Homo sapiens: one gene and its partners. The protein of the gene in region 2 interacts with the protein of the main gene of each other region in a pairwise test. Each region holds a gene or a part of one and is shown on either strand. Other genes may lie near its edges.

Evidence for each region. Proteins that work in one complex are often made in the same cells at the same time.
Region 1: the proteins of SPG21 (region 2) and RAD51C interact in binary tests that used the Homo sapiens proteins (3 or more experiments, as listed by UniProt).
Region 3: the proteins of SPG21 (region 2) and CLDN22 interact in binary tests that used the Homo sapiens proteins (3 or more experiments, as listed by UniProt).
Region 4: the proteins of SPG21 (region 2) and USHBP1 interact in binary tests that used the Homo sapiens proteins (3 or more experiments, as listed by UniProt).

What each region holds. Positions count from the first base shown.
Region 1 is NC_000017.11:58,733,357-58,736,111, forward strand, and holds the end of RAD51C (DNA repair protein RAD51 homolog 3), read left to right. Parts: intron 1-761; coding exon 762-866; 3' UTR 867-2,255; downstream 2,256-2,755. UniProt on the Homo sapiens protein: Essential for the homologous recombination (HR) pathway of DNA repair. Involved in the homologous recombination repair (HRR) pathway of double-stranded DNA breaks arising during DNA replication or induced by DNA-damaging agents.
Region 2 is NC_000015.10:64,968,653-64,973,793, reverse strand, and holds part of SPG21 (maspardin), read left to right. Parts: intron 1-3,571; coding exon 3,572-3,680; intron 3,681-4,431; coding exon 4,432-4,539; intron 4,540-5,141. UniProt on the Homo sapiens protein: May play a role as a negative regulatory factor in CD4-dependent T-cell activation.
Region 3 is NC_000004.12:183,317,600-183,321,730, reverse strand, and holds CLDN22 (claudin-22), read left to right. Parts: upstream 1-1,454; 5' UTR 1,455-1,512; coding exon 1,513-2,175; 3' UTR 2,176-3,631; downstream 3,632-4,131. UniProt on the Homo sapiens protein: Plays a major role in tight junction-specific obliteration of the intercellular space, through calcium-independent cell-adhesion activity.
Region 4 is NC_000019.10:17,254,746-17,258,245, reverse strand, and holds part of USHBP1 (harmonin-binding protein USHBP1), read left to right. Parts: coding exon 1-34; intron 35-1,525; coding exon 1,526-1,775; intron 1,776-2,639; coding exon 2,640-2,861; intron 2,862-3,500.

The sequences.
Region 1 (2,755 bases), on a different chromosome or scaffold from region 2:
TGAAACTGAATTATCCACTTAGTCTTTGCAGTACCCAGGTGTACTTGAAATATCCTAGTTGGGGAAAAAAAAGAGAGAGAGAAATATCATAGTTGGAAAACTTTAGAGTATTTAATTATGAAAATAAATCTGTAAAGTACCTAAGACTTAGGTTATTTCCTTTTACTTCTAACAAAGCTATCGTAAAGTTTGTTAGGATTGACCTTTAGAGAACATTTTTATAATGCAATGTTATTTCTGTGCGTGTGTATGCAAGGGTATAAATAAGTATATATAAAATACTCTTAATATAGCCCGGGCTTTGGCACGTATCCATGAGGTTTATTCTCTTCATTCACAGTGGTTGATAAATTTCTATCTCAAGAACTTTCTTTTTTTTTGAGACGAAGTCTCACTATTTCGCCCAGGCTAGAGTGCAGTGGCACAATCTTGTCTCACTGCAACCTCCGCCTCCCAGGTTCAAGCGATTCTCCTGCCTCAGCCTCCAGAGTAGCTGGGACTAGAGGTGTGTGCCACCATGCCCAGCTAATTTTTATATTTTTGGTAGAGATAGGGGTCACCATGTTGGCCAGGCTGGTCTTGAACTCCTGACCTCATGATCTGCCCACCTCAGCCTCCCAAAGTGCTGGGATTACAGGTGTGAGCCACTGCGCCTGGCCCTAGAATAAAGTAGCTTTCTTATTAGTTACTTAAAAATATTTCTAAGATCAGTCTTCAAATGTTCTTAAAGCATATTTGTATATATATTTTTTATCTTTCAGCCTCAGGGATTTAGAGATACTGTTGTTACTTCTGCATGTTCATTGCAAACAGAAGGTTCCTTGAGCACCCGGAAACGGTCACGAGACCCAGAGGAAGAATTATAACCCAGAAACAAATCTCAAAGTGTACAAATTTATTGATGTTGTGAAATCAATGTGTACAAGTGGACTTGTTACCTTAAAGTATAAATAAACACACTATGGCATGAATGAATCCAGATCATATGAAGTGAATGGGAAAAATACCTAAATATGATTCTGTGAAAGTTTTTCTAAAGCAGTATTCTGCAATTATATTTTACCCTGTTTTCATTTTCAGTAACATTCAGTAGAGATGATTATTATATTTCACAAATGTGGAAAGCTGATCTCATGTGGCCAGTCTGAATTTACCATTCATACTGTTTTCACCCCTTTCTTTCCCAGTTGCCTATAAAATCTTAGGAAGAAACATATCATATTCTTATTGTGTTTTTTTTTTTTTTTTTTTTTTTGGAGATGGATTCTCGCTCTGTAGTCCAGGCTGGAGTGCAATGGCGCAATCTCTGCTCACTGCAACCTCCGCCTCCCAGGTTCAAGCGATTCATCTGCCTCAGCCTCCCGAGTAGCTGGGGTTACAGGCACCTGCCATCGTGCCTGGCTAATTTTTTGTATTTTTGTAGAGACAGAGTTTTACCATGTTGGCCAAGCTGGTCTTGAACTCCTGACCTCAGGTGATCTGCCTGCCCCTGCCTCCCAAAGTGCTGGGATTACAGTCGTGAGCCACTGTGCCCAGCCATGTTCTTTTTAAATGTAAATTTGATAATTCTTTAAAATTACCCGCTTTTATAATTATAAAAGAGAAGCCAGCACCATGAGTCAGCATATTATTCTGTTCAGTTTTATAGGTAAGATACAAATTTTAGGTGACCAAACTGATTTTAGTGACCTCAATCCTAAAATCTAAGCCATTTGTTTAGCTTTTAATGACATTTTATAATGTTAAAGGGAGGACTTTGGAGCTGTTATCTCATCTAGAGATTGTTTGGAACATATGTCTTCCAGAATAGGTTGATAAGCTCACAATCATTTATTGCTACGTTTTTGTTTTTGTTTTGAGACAAGGTCTCACTCCGTCACCCAGGCTGGAGTGCAGTGGCATGATCATAGCTCACTGCAGCCTCGACCTCCCGGGCTCAAGCAATCCTCTCACTTCAGCCTCCTGAGTAGCTGGGACTACAGGGAGGCACTACCATGCCCTGCTAATTTTTGGATTTTTTTGTAGAGACAAGGTCTCACTATGTTGCCCAGGCTGGTCTCAAACTCCTGGTCTCAAGCGATCCTCTTGCCTTGTCTTCCCAAAGTGCTGGGATTACAGATGTGAGCCACCACACCTGGCCTCATTTCTATATTTTGAAACACGGTATGATCCATTCTAGAATTCTAGTTGTTATGTTGACATTTTTCTTTGAATAATCTTAACTTTGCTTAAATAAATTAAAGATTTCAATTCTCGATGGTTTCAAAATCACCTAAAAATATTTTCACACTTGGCTCTTAGTACTTTTCAACTTACTCACAAAATTTACTTTGGTTCCCTGTGGGGGAAAAAATAATTAATTTTGGGACAGAATCTCGCTCTGTCACCCAGACTGCAGTGCAGTGGCACAATCTTGGCTCACCGCAACCTCTGCTTCCAGGGTTTAGGCGATTCTTGTGCCTCAGCCTCCCAAGTAGCTGGGATTACAGGCATGCACCACCGTGCCAAGCTAATAGTTTGTAATTTTAGTAGAGACAGGTTTCTCTATGTTGGCTAGGGTGGTCGCGAACTCCTGGGGCTCAAGTGACCCGCCCACCTCTGCCTCCCAAAGTGCTGGAATTAACAGGTGTGAGACTGCGCGCCCAGCCATATTTATATATTTATTTTTAAACTATTATTTTAGGTTCAGGGGTACGTGTGAAGGTTGGTTACGTAGGTAAACTCATGTCACGGGTTTATTGTACAGATTATTTCA
Region 2 (5,141 bases):
TTGATATTAGTCTGTTCTTCCAAAAGATAGAAATGGTGGAAATGAGGCTGGGTGCGGTGGCTCACACCTGTAATCCCAGCACTTTGGGAGGCCGAGGCGGCCGGATCACCTGAGGTCGGGAGTTCGAGACCAGCCTGACCAACGTGGAGAAACCCTGTCTACTAAAAATACAAAATTAGCTGGGCAAGGTGGCACATGCCTATAATCCCAGCTACTCAGGAGGCTGAGGCAGGAGAATCACTTGAACCCAGGATGCGGAGGTTGTGGTGAGCCGAGATCACGCCATTGCACTCCAGCCTAGGCAACAGGAGCGAAACTCCATCTCAAAAAAAAAACAAACCAAAAACAAAATGGTGGAAATGCTTTGGGTGCAGCCAGTGGGGTACTTGTTTCCTAGGAGCCATCCTTTCATTGATTTTATCATTTTAAGTAATTGGTAGGTATCTATGATGCCATACAGCTGGCTTACTGTGCACTTCTTTCATTGCTGGCAAGGCGAGGCTCTAGCCTTAAAATAAAGCCCAGTGGCCAGGTGTGATGGCTCATGCCGTACTCCCAACACTTTGGGAGGCCAAGACAGGAGGATCACTTCAGGCCAAGAGTTTGAAACCAGCCTGAGCAACATAGTGAGACCCCATCTCTACAAATAACAATAATAATAAATTAGCCAGGTATCATGGTATGCACCTGCAGTCCTAGCTACTCAGGAGGCTGAGGCAGGAGGATCGCTTGAGCCCAAGAGTTCAAGGCTGCAGTGAGCCACAACTGTGCCTCTGTACTCCAGGCTGGGTGACAGAGCAAGACCCTACTTCAAAAAAAAAGCCCAGTGAGTAAACACATCTGTATGATCAGTGTTTTCAAATAATGTATAGGGAAATATCGTTTTCACATCTACTTAAAATTGCACTCTGATATTTTTTAGTTTTTTTTGTTGTTGTTTGTTTTTTTGTTTGTTTGTTTTTGAGATGGAGTCTCGCTCTGTCGCCCAGGCTGGAGTGCAGTGGCACGATCTCAGCTCACTGCAAGCTCTGCCTCCCAGGTTCACGCCATTCTCCTGCCTCAGCCTCCCGAATAGCTGGGACTACAGGCGCCCGCCACCATGCCTGGCTAATTTTTTATGTTTTTAGTAGAGACGGGGTTTCACCGTGTTCACCAGTATGGTCTCGATCTCCTGACCTCGTGATCCGCCCGCCTCAGCCTCCCAAAGTGCTGGGATTACAGGCATGAGCCACTGTGCCCAGCTATTTTTTAGTTTTTCTGATGTTATCTTAGTAATTACTCAGCATTCATGCAACAATTTCTTGTATACATTAGCTACTTTACAAATCCTTCCCGTCCAGATAATGCACTAAATAATGCTCATTATTTTTGGTGATTTTTATTGCTGTTCTAATTGTTAGAATGCCAAGACAGCCCCCATTCAGTTTGTGCTCTGGCACATCAGCTGCTTATTGTCAAATATCTGAGTGCTTACTGTGTGCCACACACTGAGGATCCAGGAGTGAGCAAAGTCAACAGGGTCCACCCCTTACAGAGCGTACTTAGACCTCATCACCTTCAAAAGATAAGAAAGTGATGGGGCTGGGAGAGAACTTAGAAAGTTAACTGGAAGGTGACCTAGTGGTCCTTTTGAGGGAAGCTCAACTTCCAGCAAGGCTGTCCCAGTGGTAATAAGCATCAGAAGGTAGTTTGCACCTCATCTAAGTAATTTTCGTCATAGGTTTACAGAAATTAGTGTTTGCCCTCCATGATGGCTCTTAACAGTTGAAATTAATGGAATAAATATAAACTAAAGATCATATATAGAAATCCGTAAAGATCTGACCAGTCACAGTGGCTCACACCTGTAATCCCAGCACTTTGGGAGGCAGAGGTAAGAGCATTGCTTGAGTCCAGGAGTTCTAGACCAGCCTGGGCAACAGAGCAAGATCCTGTCTCTACAGAAAAAAAATTTTCTTTTTTGAGATGGGAGTCTCGCTCTGTTGCCCAGGCTGGAGTGCAGTGGCACGTTCTCACTGCAGCCTCTGCCCCCCAGGTTCAAGTGATTCTCCTGCCTCAGCCTCCCAAGTAGCTGGGATTACAGGCGCTGGCCACCGCCCCTGGCTAATTTTTGTATTTTTAGTAGAGACGGGGTTTCACCATCTTGGCCAGGCTGGTCTTGAACTCCTGACCTTGTGATCACCCACCTTGGCCTCCCAAAGTTCTGGATTACAGGCATGAGCCATTGCGCCTGGCTCAGTAAATTTTTTTTTTTGGAGACGGAGTCTGGCTCTGTCGCCCAGGCTGGAGTGCCATGGCACGATCTTGGCTCACTGCAAGCTCCATCTCCTGGGTTCACGCCATTCTCCTGCCTCAGCCTCCCGAGTAGCTGGGACTACAGGCGCCCGCCACCAAGCCCGGCTAATTTTTAGTATTTTTAGTGGAGACGGGGTTTCACCGTGTTAGCCAGGATGGTCTCAATCTCCTGACCTCGTGATCTGCCCACCTTGGCCTCCCAAAGTGCTGGGATTACAGGCATGAGCCACCGTGCCTGGCCCCGGCTCCCCCAGCTCAGTAAATTTTTAAAAAATTAGTCAGGCCTGGTGGTACGAGCCCGTAGTCCCAGCTACTCGGGAGGCCAAGGTAGAAGGATCACTTGATAGGAGTTTGAGGCTACAGTGAGCTATGATCACAATACTGCACTTCAGCCTGGGCAACAGAGTGAGACCCTGTCTCTAAAAGTTTTTTTTTAAATTTTTTAATTAAAAAATAAAAAGAGGCCAGGAGTGGCTCACGCCTGTGATCCCAGCACTGTGGGAGGCTGAGGTGGGTGGATCACTTGAGGCCAGGAGTTCACCACCAGTCTGGCCAACATTGCAAAAGCTCATCTTTACTAAAAATACAGAAGTTAGCCGGGCGTGGTGGCATGTGCCTGTAGTCGCAGCTACTCGAAAGGCTGAGGCATGAGAATTGCTTGAGCCCGGGAGGCAGAGGTTGCACCCAGCCGAGATCATGCCACTGTACTTCCAGCATGGGTAACTGACTGAGACTCTGTCTCAAAAAATAATAACAATAATAAATTTAAAAAATAAATCTATAAATATCAATTTGCCTTGAATTAGCCAAGTTGAATCTAATAGTAGCAAATTTGGGGAGGTGCAATAGCTTTCATATTGGTATTTTGAAATCTGTTTTGAAATATCAATCGATAAAAACATAATATCAACCAGAAGGAAAGAATACTTCTCTTAATATTCAGTTTTCCAAAAGAAATAGTTTAATCCTTGGAAATAGGGCCAATTAGAGAAAAAAAACAATCTTGGACTCATCAGAATGTCTATCTCAGTAAAGGTATTTTGAAATATCTCTTATAATTATCCTAAATCCTCAAATAAAAGTTTAATTATATGAAGCCATAACTCTTTGGAAGCTTGGGAAAGTGTGTGTAAAAACTAGATGCTGAGCTCTTTGGAGGAGGGGATTAGGACTTTTTATTTCTAGATCCCAAGCTAATACAAAGCTTTAATGTTGAATGAATATTTGCCATGTGTAGTCTTGGAAGTTTAAATTATAAGGTCTTTGTGTTTTACAGCTTTTGGCTGATGCCTGCATTTATGCTCAAAAAAATAGTTCTTGGAAATTTTTCATCTGGCCCGGTGGACCCTATGATGGCTGATGCCATTGATTTCATGGTAGACAGGGTAAGGATCATGACATTGGGTTGGGGACACATTGTATTGGGAATTTTCACATCTACTTGGTTCCAGAAGATAGATCTGTCTCACAAGTATGTGTAAGAGGTATTTGCTAAGCAGAGTAATACATCTGAGCAGATATTATTGCTGGTAAGGGCTTGCCTACATCAGTGCTTCCCACCAGCTATTCATCAAAATCACTTAGGGGAGCTTTCAAAAATACAGATTGTAAGGCCTCACAGCAGATCATCCATCTGGAATCCCTGGGCATGGGATCTGGGAATCTATTTTTACTTCACACTTTTCCTCTACCCACCAGGTAAATCTGATGAACCAGGTCTGTTGGCTTGCATTTAGGAACTGCTGGGCTAGATGATTTCTCAAATCTCTTTTAAGATCCCTTAAAGGTTTATCTTAAAAAAAAAAAAAAAACAAAAACATATATCTGTCACCTTTGAGCAGTAGGAATTGGCTTGCTGCCCATGGGCACCTGGCTGGAGTAGGCAGTGTAGGCTGAGGGCTGTAGAAGGCCGGGTTTCATTGGTTTGTACCCAGGTTTCCAGAATAGAAAAATGCCACAACCTCCTGAGAAGCCCAGTTCATGGTCTCTCACCTAAGTTGTGGTTCCTCACTGATGACTTTTCTGGCCCCACCACAGATGATACCACCTTTATAAGCACAAATGTTGTCTGTGGATTTAATGTAAATGTGAAAAACAAAATTATTTCAAAAACTTTACCTGTGTTTCTTCCTGCAGCTAGAAAGTTTGGGTCAGAGTGAACTGGCTTCAAGACTTACCTTGAATTGTCAAAATTCTTATGTGGAACCTCATAAAATTCGGGACATACCTGTAACTATTATGGATGTAAGCTTCCTTTTAAGTAAAATAGCTGCTTTACTTTTTAAAATGTGTATGTCAAGATCTCCTATAAAACTATTTGATAACTTTCAATGTACCTCTTCAAATGCTGCCTTGGCTTTTGTTTTTACCCTCCAGCTTTCTCAATTCCAAAATAATCTGTTTATTGCTTATCTTGGATTTCTTTCTGGCAGGAATAACACCATTGAAATCAAAATAGGCCGAGCACAGTGGCTTATGCCTGTAATCCCAGCGCTTTGGGAGGCTGAGGCAGGAGGATTGCTTGAGTCCAAGAGTTCAGGACCAGCCTGGGCAACATAGTGAGACCCTGTCTGTATTTATTAAAAAAAAATAAAAATAAAAATGAATCAAAATAAATTTAAACAAGGGAGTCTACCCATTTGATGTATTTTTGCTGTTCTCATCAATAGATATTGCACCATATATTGCACATATATGGGCAGCAAAGAGAAGGTGCTTCACAAGGGTAACAAGGGTAGAGAATCAAGAATTCCATAGTTTAATTACCACAAAAGCTTGCTTATTTTTTTATTGTGGTAAAATGTACATTTAAAATATGCCATTTTAACCATTTTTAAGTGCATAGT
Region 3 (4,131 bases), on a different chromosome or scaffold from region 2:
AACTGTGATGACAAAGACCTCTTTGTTTTGTAGCTAAACCTGTGATGCTCACGTTTTCTCATTCACTATTTTTCTACAGTAGGTAGACCCACTTCCCTCTAAAATCTGAATAATGAAGGAAAAATCTTTTATCTAAAAGAAAATGATTATGGTAAGCATTATACAGGTAGAAGTGAAACAAGCTTCATTGATCTGGTTATTGAAATTAATGTGGTGGCTGTCCAATACAGTCAGTTTCAAGCTTTAATGTGTAAATTTCATATTAGAAAGCTTTTTTCTGTTTTTCTTTTTTTTGTTGTTGCTGTTGGTAGTCAGAAATGATCTTTAGTTTCTGTTTCCTAAAGAAAAAAACTAACAATCTGAAAATTTTAAGTGTTCTACTTTAGCAAAACCACATGCTAAGCCAACCTCAAAGTGTTATTTCCACAACAATGACCTTTTTCTTCTTTGAACAGAAGTGGTTTGTTTTTAGGATATTACCAGGCACTCAGTGCGGCAAGATTTTATGAGGCTGAAGAGTTTTCAGTACCTTGTGATCCTCTCAGATTTAAAATGGTGGCCAATCTCTTCTCTCATCCTTTCCCTCAAAACCTTCGTATTAAAAAAAGAAAAACAATTCCAAAGACATTTTTCTTGATATCCTGATATTGTCAGGTCATTTGAATAAAACCTTTCCTTTGTTCAATGAAAAATCGCTAACATGGGGATATCTACTTTAGTGGTGAATAAACAGAAATGCTGACTCCAACCTGCAGAGTCCAAATGCTGAACTTTCCTCGGCACAGAAAGCATATATAAGAAAAAAAAGTGTTTATGCACACAAGCGTGAATTTGACAGAAAGGCATGCAGATAAATAAACTAGATCTGTAGTTCAGTATTGCTTCATATGCCATGTGGTATATGTAGCCTGAGGAATTTCTGAAACGCAGGAGTGAGTTAAGGTGTAGAGAGATTTCTGATAAGATTGATTTATTTGGTTAAGAAATACTTTTCTTAAACCTATTTTTAAAAAATAACACTCAGTATTACCATAACATGCACATTTGAAATGTGAGAACTATAAGAGATGAAAATCTGACAGGTGCAGTTAGTGAAACACAAAGCAGGAGGAGTTGAACCAAAACCATCAGTTAAACATTTTGCATTTAGACTTAATTCTTTGTTAGAAAGGTTGGGAATAACATGAAAGCCATTTTAACCTTGACAATGAAAGGAGATTATCACTTAATTATATTTCAGTGACAAACTGCTTTCTGTCAAATCCAGCCCACAGGACACAAACACAATCTTGGCCACACCTTGGCATTACTGGTTGGCGGCATTATTTCCCTATCCTTTTGTGAAACCCATTCAACATGGAATCAAACAATAGCAACTCTGGCAAGAATCCTCCTATATACACAATGAAGAAATATTTCTGAGTTTCATAAGTTATAACACAAGTGTCACACTTCTTTTCACAGCAACCGAAGGGCAGGAGTTAGTTTGGCTAAAGCTCTCAGGACATTATAATGGCTTTAGTATTTAGAACTGTAGCTCAACTAGCTGGAGTTTCATTATCTTTGCTGGGATGGGTTTTATCCTGTCTTACAAACTACCTGCCACACTGGAAGAACCTCAACCTGGACTTAAATGAAATGGAAAACTGGACCATGGGACTCTGGCAAACCTGTGTCATCCAAGAGGAAGTGGGGATGCAATGCAAGGACTTTGACTCCTTCCTGGCTTTGCCTGCTGAACTCAGGGTCTCCAGGATCTTAATGTTTCTGTCAAATGGGCTGGGATTTCTGGGCCTGCTGGTCTCTGGGTTTGGCCTGGACTGTTTGAGAATTGGAGAGAGTCAGAGAGATCTCAAGAGGCGACTGCTGATCCTGGGAGGAATTCTGTCCTGGGCCTCGGGAGTCACAGCCCTGGTTCCCGTCTCTTGGGTTGCCCACAAGACGGTTCAGGAGTTCTGGGATGAGAACGTCCCAGACTTTGTCCCCAGGTGGGAGTTTGGGGAGGCCCTGTTTCTGGGCTGGTTTGCTGGACTTTCTCTTCTGCTAGGAGGGTGTCTGCTCCACTGTGCAGCCTGCTCCAGCCACGCTCCCCTAGCTTCGGGCCACTACGCAGTGGCACAAACACAAGATCATCATCAAGAACTGGAGACGAGAAACACCAACCTGAAACACTAAGCCAGAAAGGACAAGCGTCTGCTGTTCAGGAGACGCTTGCTCAACACTGGATTTGGTAGGATGTCCCGCTCTAGTCATCTCACTGTGCTTTTGATTTTTGAAAATGCATCTTTTCCTGTGGCTATTAAACTATAGTTTCTTTCCAAGACTGGTAAACCATTTTTATCTTCTAGTCTGAGACCAAAATCAATCAAGACTGAATAGTAATGACACCCATTACTGTGGATGAGTTTTCTCAATTTTAAAATAGCGATTGCACAGAAGTGGTAAATAAAACATTAATCTCTATGTATCTTTGAAGGTATTATTCATATGGAGCGGAATCATTTGGCAAATCATTTACTTATTTCAGGTGTTTAAGATAACCTAGTATAATAAGCCTGAGGTCTTGTTGCATATTTATTTAAAATGCATGACGTCTTATTATATAAAATAATTACTAGCTCTTTAGAAGCTTCAGAGGTGAAAGGTGTAGACACATCATCTCCTTCTGAATCAGAGACCTCAGTGTCTCTATGGAACCTTTTTCAAAAGGCAGCCACATTCAGTCACGCCTTCTATACTGTCAGAGGCAGGAGGGCGATCTTGGGTTTTGGATGATTCAAGTAGACTCTGCCACACAAACGTGCTTCTGCATCCTGTGTTCTGTATTTCACGGGCAGCGTTTCTGGCTTCCCAGGCACTGAGCAGCCTGTGGGGGGCACGGCAGGGCAGGACTGGGGTGTGTGGGTAGATAACCTCCTGGGACGGCTGCCTCTCTGTGGAGCACACTGCCAGCCCAGGCGCAGCGACCACAGAGCACATATTCTGGAGCCCTTCATTTTATTTGCTCAATGAAAATACTTCGTCCTTTTTTATCAGCAATACATATAGTTCCAACAAGAACTATTCATCACAAACTGCCAGCCTGGGGATTTCTTCATGAAATATTTTGTATTTGCTTGGTACATGGTTCAAGGAAACTCTTGTGTTTGTGCCAATCAGGGAAATAAACTGAACAATAAACGACACTGAAATAGAGTATTAGGCAATATGTAGCTTTGTTTTTGCTTTTTTTTTTAAAAAAAACCACTGAATTTTTTTCCACCCACAAACACATGGAAAGTGCAGAAACCAGTTAATCTATGTGATGTATTTGCATACGTTTACAAACAAGACAAATTAAAACAGAAACATGTTCAGAATTTAACCTGATTAAATATTAAGTTCAGTCCTGAGCTTTTGATATTTAAGACAATATAGATAAAGCAATAGCAAAAAATTTTAATTTATTTGATTTGCATGCTACAGAGATTTAGCTAAACTTTGTTCATTTGGCTAGCAATATTCTTTTTGTACCTGTAACACTTAAGATTCTGATATACAAAATTGTAATAATATACTGATAATTCAAACTTGAGAACTAAATATTACATTCTTTTTACCCTGTGCGAATAAATTCTACCTTTTAAAAATAGTATTTATAATATTAAAATTCATATTTGTCCATATGGTTTTGTGATCAAGTTATTAAAATGTTTTGTCACTGTGAATCATTTGGGTTAGTACAAATATGACAAGATTATTAAAAGCTGCCTATAAATACATAACACTATTGCTGACTTTTAAAGTGTAGAAAAAGGATTATATTAAAATAAGTTCATCTCTCATGTTAGAAATGAGGAAATTTTGTGAAATACAACAACCAAAAGCATCTTGGTCACAACTGCTAACTACCAGCCTGAGACAGATTTTATTCTTTAATACTTGTCTGAAACTTTTTGTATTACAAAAAGTCAACAGCTAATCTGATGAAAGACTTATAAAGCTGTAAATATTCCAATATAGTCTCTTCTGTGTCAAATATTTAAAATGGCCAGAATCAAACTATATATTAAACAGAACATAAATAAGACTGTAAATAAATAAATGAAGAAAATAAAATCGTACGGAACAACTACACATAATTCTATAGAC
Region 4 (3,500 bases), on a different chromosome or scaffold from region 2:
TGGATGCAGGAGCACAGCAGAATCCACAGCCAAGGTACCCCCCTGGAACCCTGGGAACTGGCCTGGTTGAGGAGTGGGGTCTTGACTGGGGGATGGGGCTCCCAGAGCTCACCACGTTTCGGGGCTTGGTGTGGCTGTGTCCAGCAAGGTCGGTATGGAGCTCACTGTAGTTGGTTGACATGAGGCTCAACTGCAGTTGGCCTGTTGCTACTTGACAAAGTTGGCATGGTGGTTGACAGACATTGCAGTTGGCATGAAGATGAATGACAATGCCTACTGGTTAAAACTGGCACCCACAGCCGGGCACAGTGGCTCAAGCCTGTAATCCCAGCACTTTGGGAGGCCGAGGCAGGCAGATCGTTTGAGCTCAGTAGTTCAAGACCAGCCCTTGTAACATGGCGAAAGTCCTTCTCTACCAAAACTACAAACAAATTAGCTGGGCATGGTGGTGTGCCCGCGTAGTACCAGCTACTTGGGAGGCTGAGGTGGGAGGATGCCTTGAGTCTGGGAGGTGGAGGCTGCAGTGAGCTGAGATTGCACCACTGCACTCCAGCCTGGGTGACAGAGTGAGACCCTGTCTTTTTTTTTTTTTTTTTTTTTTTTGAGACAGAGTTTCACTTTTGTCGCCCAGGCTAGAGTCCAATGGTCCGATCTCGGCTCACTGCAACCTCTGCCTCCCGGGTTCAAGGGATTCTCCTGCCTCAGCCTCCCGAGTAGCTGGGATTACAGGCTCCCACTACCACACCCGGCTAATTTTGAATTTTTAGTAGAGACGGGGTTTCTCCATATTGGTCAGGCTGGTCTCGAACTCCTGACCTCAGGTGATCCACTTGCCTCGGCCTCCCAAAGTGCTGGGATTACAGGCGTTAGGCACTGCGCCCGGCCGCAGCTAATTTTTTATGAAGACGGATTCTCGGCCAGGCGCGGTGGCTCACGCCTGTAATCCCAGCACTTTGGGAGGCCGAGGTGGGCAGATCACAAGGTCAGGAGATCGAGACCATCCTGGCTAACACGGTGAAACCTCGTCTCTACTAAAAATCCAAAAAAAAAAAAAAAAATTAGCCGGGCGTGGTGGCAAGCGCCTGTAGTCCTACCTTCTTGGGAGGCTGAGACAGGAGAATGGCGTGAACCCGAGAGGTGGAGCTTGCAGTGAGCCGAGGTTATGCCACTGCACTCCAGCCTGGGCGACAGAGCAAGACTGCGTCTCAAAAAAAAAAAAAAAAAAGACGGATTCTCACTCTGTTGCCTATGCTGGTCTCAAACTTCTGGCTTCAAGCAATCCTCCCACCTCAGCCTCCCAAAGTGCTGGGGTTACAGGCATGCATCACCGCACCTGGCCACCATGTGGTCTTGATGGAAGGTGGTGCCTAGTGGGGTATGTTGGTGTGACAGGGACCACCAAAGATGGCATAGATTCCATCGTGGCCAGTGAGATGGAAGGTGATGGACCCTACCAGGATTGGCATGAACTTAACCCACCTATGCCTGCCAGTGTTGACATAGGCACCTTTTCTGTTTTCTATAGCCCTGAAGGCAGCAGTGTGGATAAGCCCACCCCACAGGAAGTGGCTTTCCAGCTCCGAAGCTATGTCCAGCGTCTCCAGGAGCGCCGTTCTCTAATGAAGATTCTCTCAGAGCCTGGCCCCACCTTGGCACCCATGCCCACTGTGCCCCGTGCAGAAGCCATGGTGCAGGCCATTCTGGGGACCCAGGCTGGCCCAGCTCTTCCCCGACTGGAGAAGACACAAATTCAGCAGGACCTGGTGGCCGCAAGGGTACAAATGGGCTGTGGCCACTGTGTCAGTCTTTCTTGGTGGGACAAAATCCTTTACTGAGGTCGGGGGACCAAGGAGCAAAGGAGAATTCTGCTGGGCTGAGTGCAGGCATTGTGAAGGGAGAATTGGAGCTGGGGTTTTGAGGGATTAATAGGAGTTTGTTTTCTGGGGTTCAGTTTCTCATTAGACTACAAATCTGGCTCTCCAAAATGCCCTTCCTATGGGAAGAGATGGGAGCAAAGAACACAATCTTGGGTTTGTAGCTTGGCATGAAAAACTTGAGGTTCTGGAGTTAGAGAAACTCCAGAAGCTTTGACAGAACTAATACTTGACCTATGTAAGCTACTTGCCCCTCTAGGAAATGCCATTTCTACAGCTGTAGCTTTTATGGGAGGAAGATATTTCCACCTCACAAGAACATGGTGAATGGTGAAGGTCCTAGTTTGTTTGTTTGTTTGTTTGTTTTTTGAGACGGAGTCTTGCTCTCACCCAGGCTGGAGTGCTGTGGCGCTATCTTGGCTCACTGCAGCCTCTGCCCCACTGCCGGGTTCAAGTGATTCTCCTGCCTCAGCCTCCCAAGTAGCTGGGATTACGGGTGTGCACCACCACACCTGGCTAATTTTTGTATTTTTAATGGAGACGGGTTTTCACCATGTTGGCCAGGCTCGTCTCGAACTCCTGACCTCAGGTAATCCACCCACTTTGGCCTCCCAAAGTGCTGGGATTACAGGCATGAGCCACTGCGCCTGGCCAAAAGTCACAGTTTTTGTCTGAATAGTCCTCAGTGGGTGCCTCTTGGGGCCTCAGTTTCCCTGCAGTTGACCGTAGAAGCATAAATTCTCTCCCCTCTCCTTGGTCCCACAGGAGGCCCTGGCGGACCTGATGCTTCGGCTGCAGCTGGTGCGGCGTGAGAAGCGGGGCCTAGAGCTGCGGGAGGCTGCCCTCCGAGCCCTGGGTCCAGCTCACGTGCTCCTGCTGGAGCAGCTGCGGTGGGAACGGGCAGAGCTCCAGGCTGGTGGGGCAAACAGCAGTGGCGGACATAGCAGCGGAGGTGGCAGCAGCGGGGACGAGGAAGAGTGGTATCAGGTGAGCTGCCCTGCCTGAACCTGGTAGGGGAGTAGCTTACTAATGAGAACATAGCCCTTGTCAATCACAGCCTTTTTTTTTTTGTTTTTTTTGAGACGGAGTTTGGCTCTTGTTGCCCAGGCTGGAATGCAATGTTGCAATCTCGGCTCACCACAACCTCCGCCTCCCAGGTTCAAGAGATTCTCCTGTCTCAGCCTCCTGAGTAGCTGGGATTACAGACACGCACCACCACATCTAGCTATTTTTTGTATGTTTTGTAGAGATGCAGTTTTGTAGAGTTGCAGTTCACCATGTTAGCCAGGCTGCTCTCGAACTCCTGGCCTCAAATGTTTCGCCTGCCTCCACCTCCCAAAGTGCTGAGATTACAGGCATGAGTCGCCGCACCTGTCCTTAATGCAGCTCTTTAAATCATCTCTCCTACCTCCAAGCCTTTGTATATTCTGTGTCCCTGCCAGGAACACCGGTCACTTCCCTCTTTGTGTCATAAAGTCCTCGACCTCCTGTAGATCTCAGCTTAGACATCACCTCCTCAAGGAAGCCCTCCTGGAGTGACTTCAGATGCGGTTTCCTGTTATTTATTTCCCTTATCACAGTGGTCCCAGCTACTCGGGTGGCTGAGGTGGGAGGATCACTTGAACC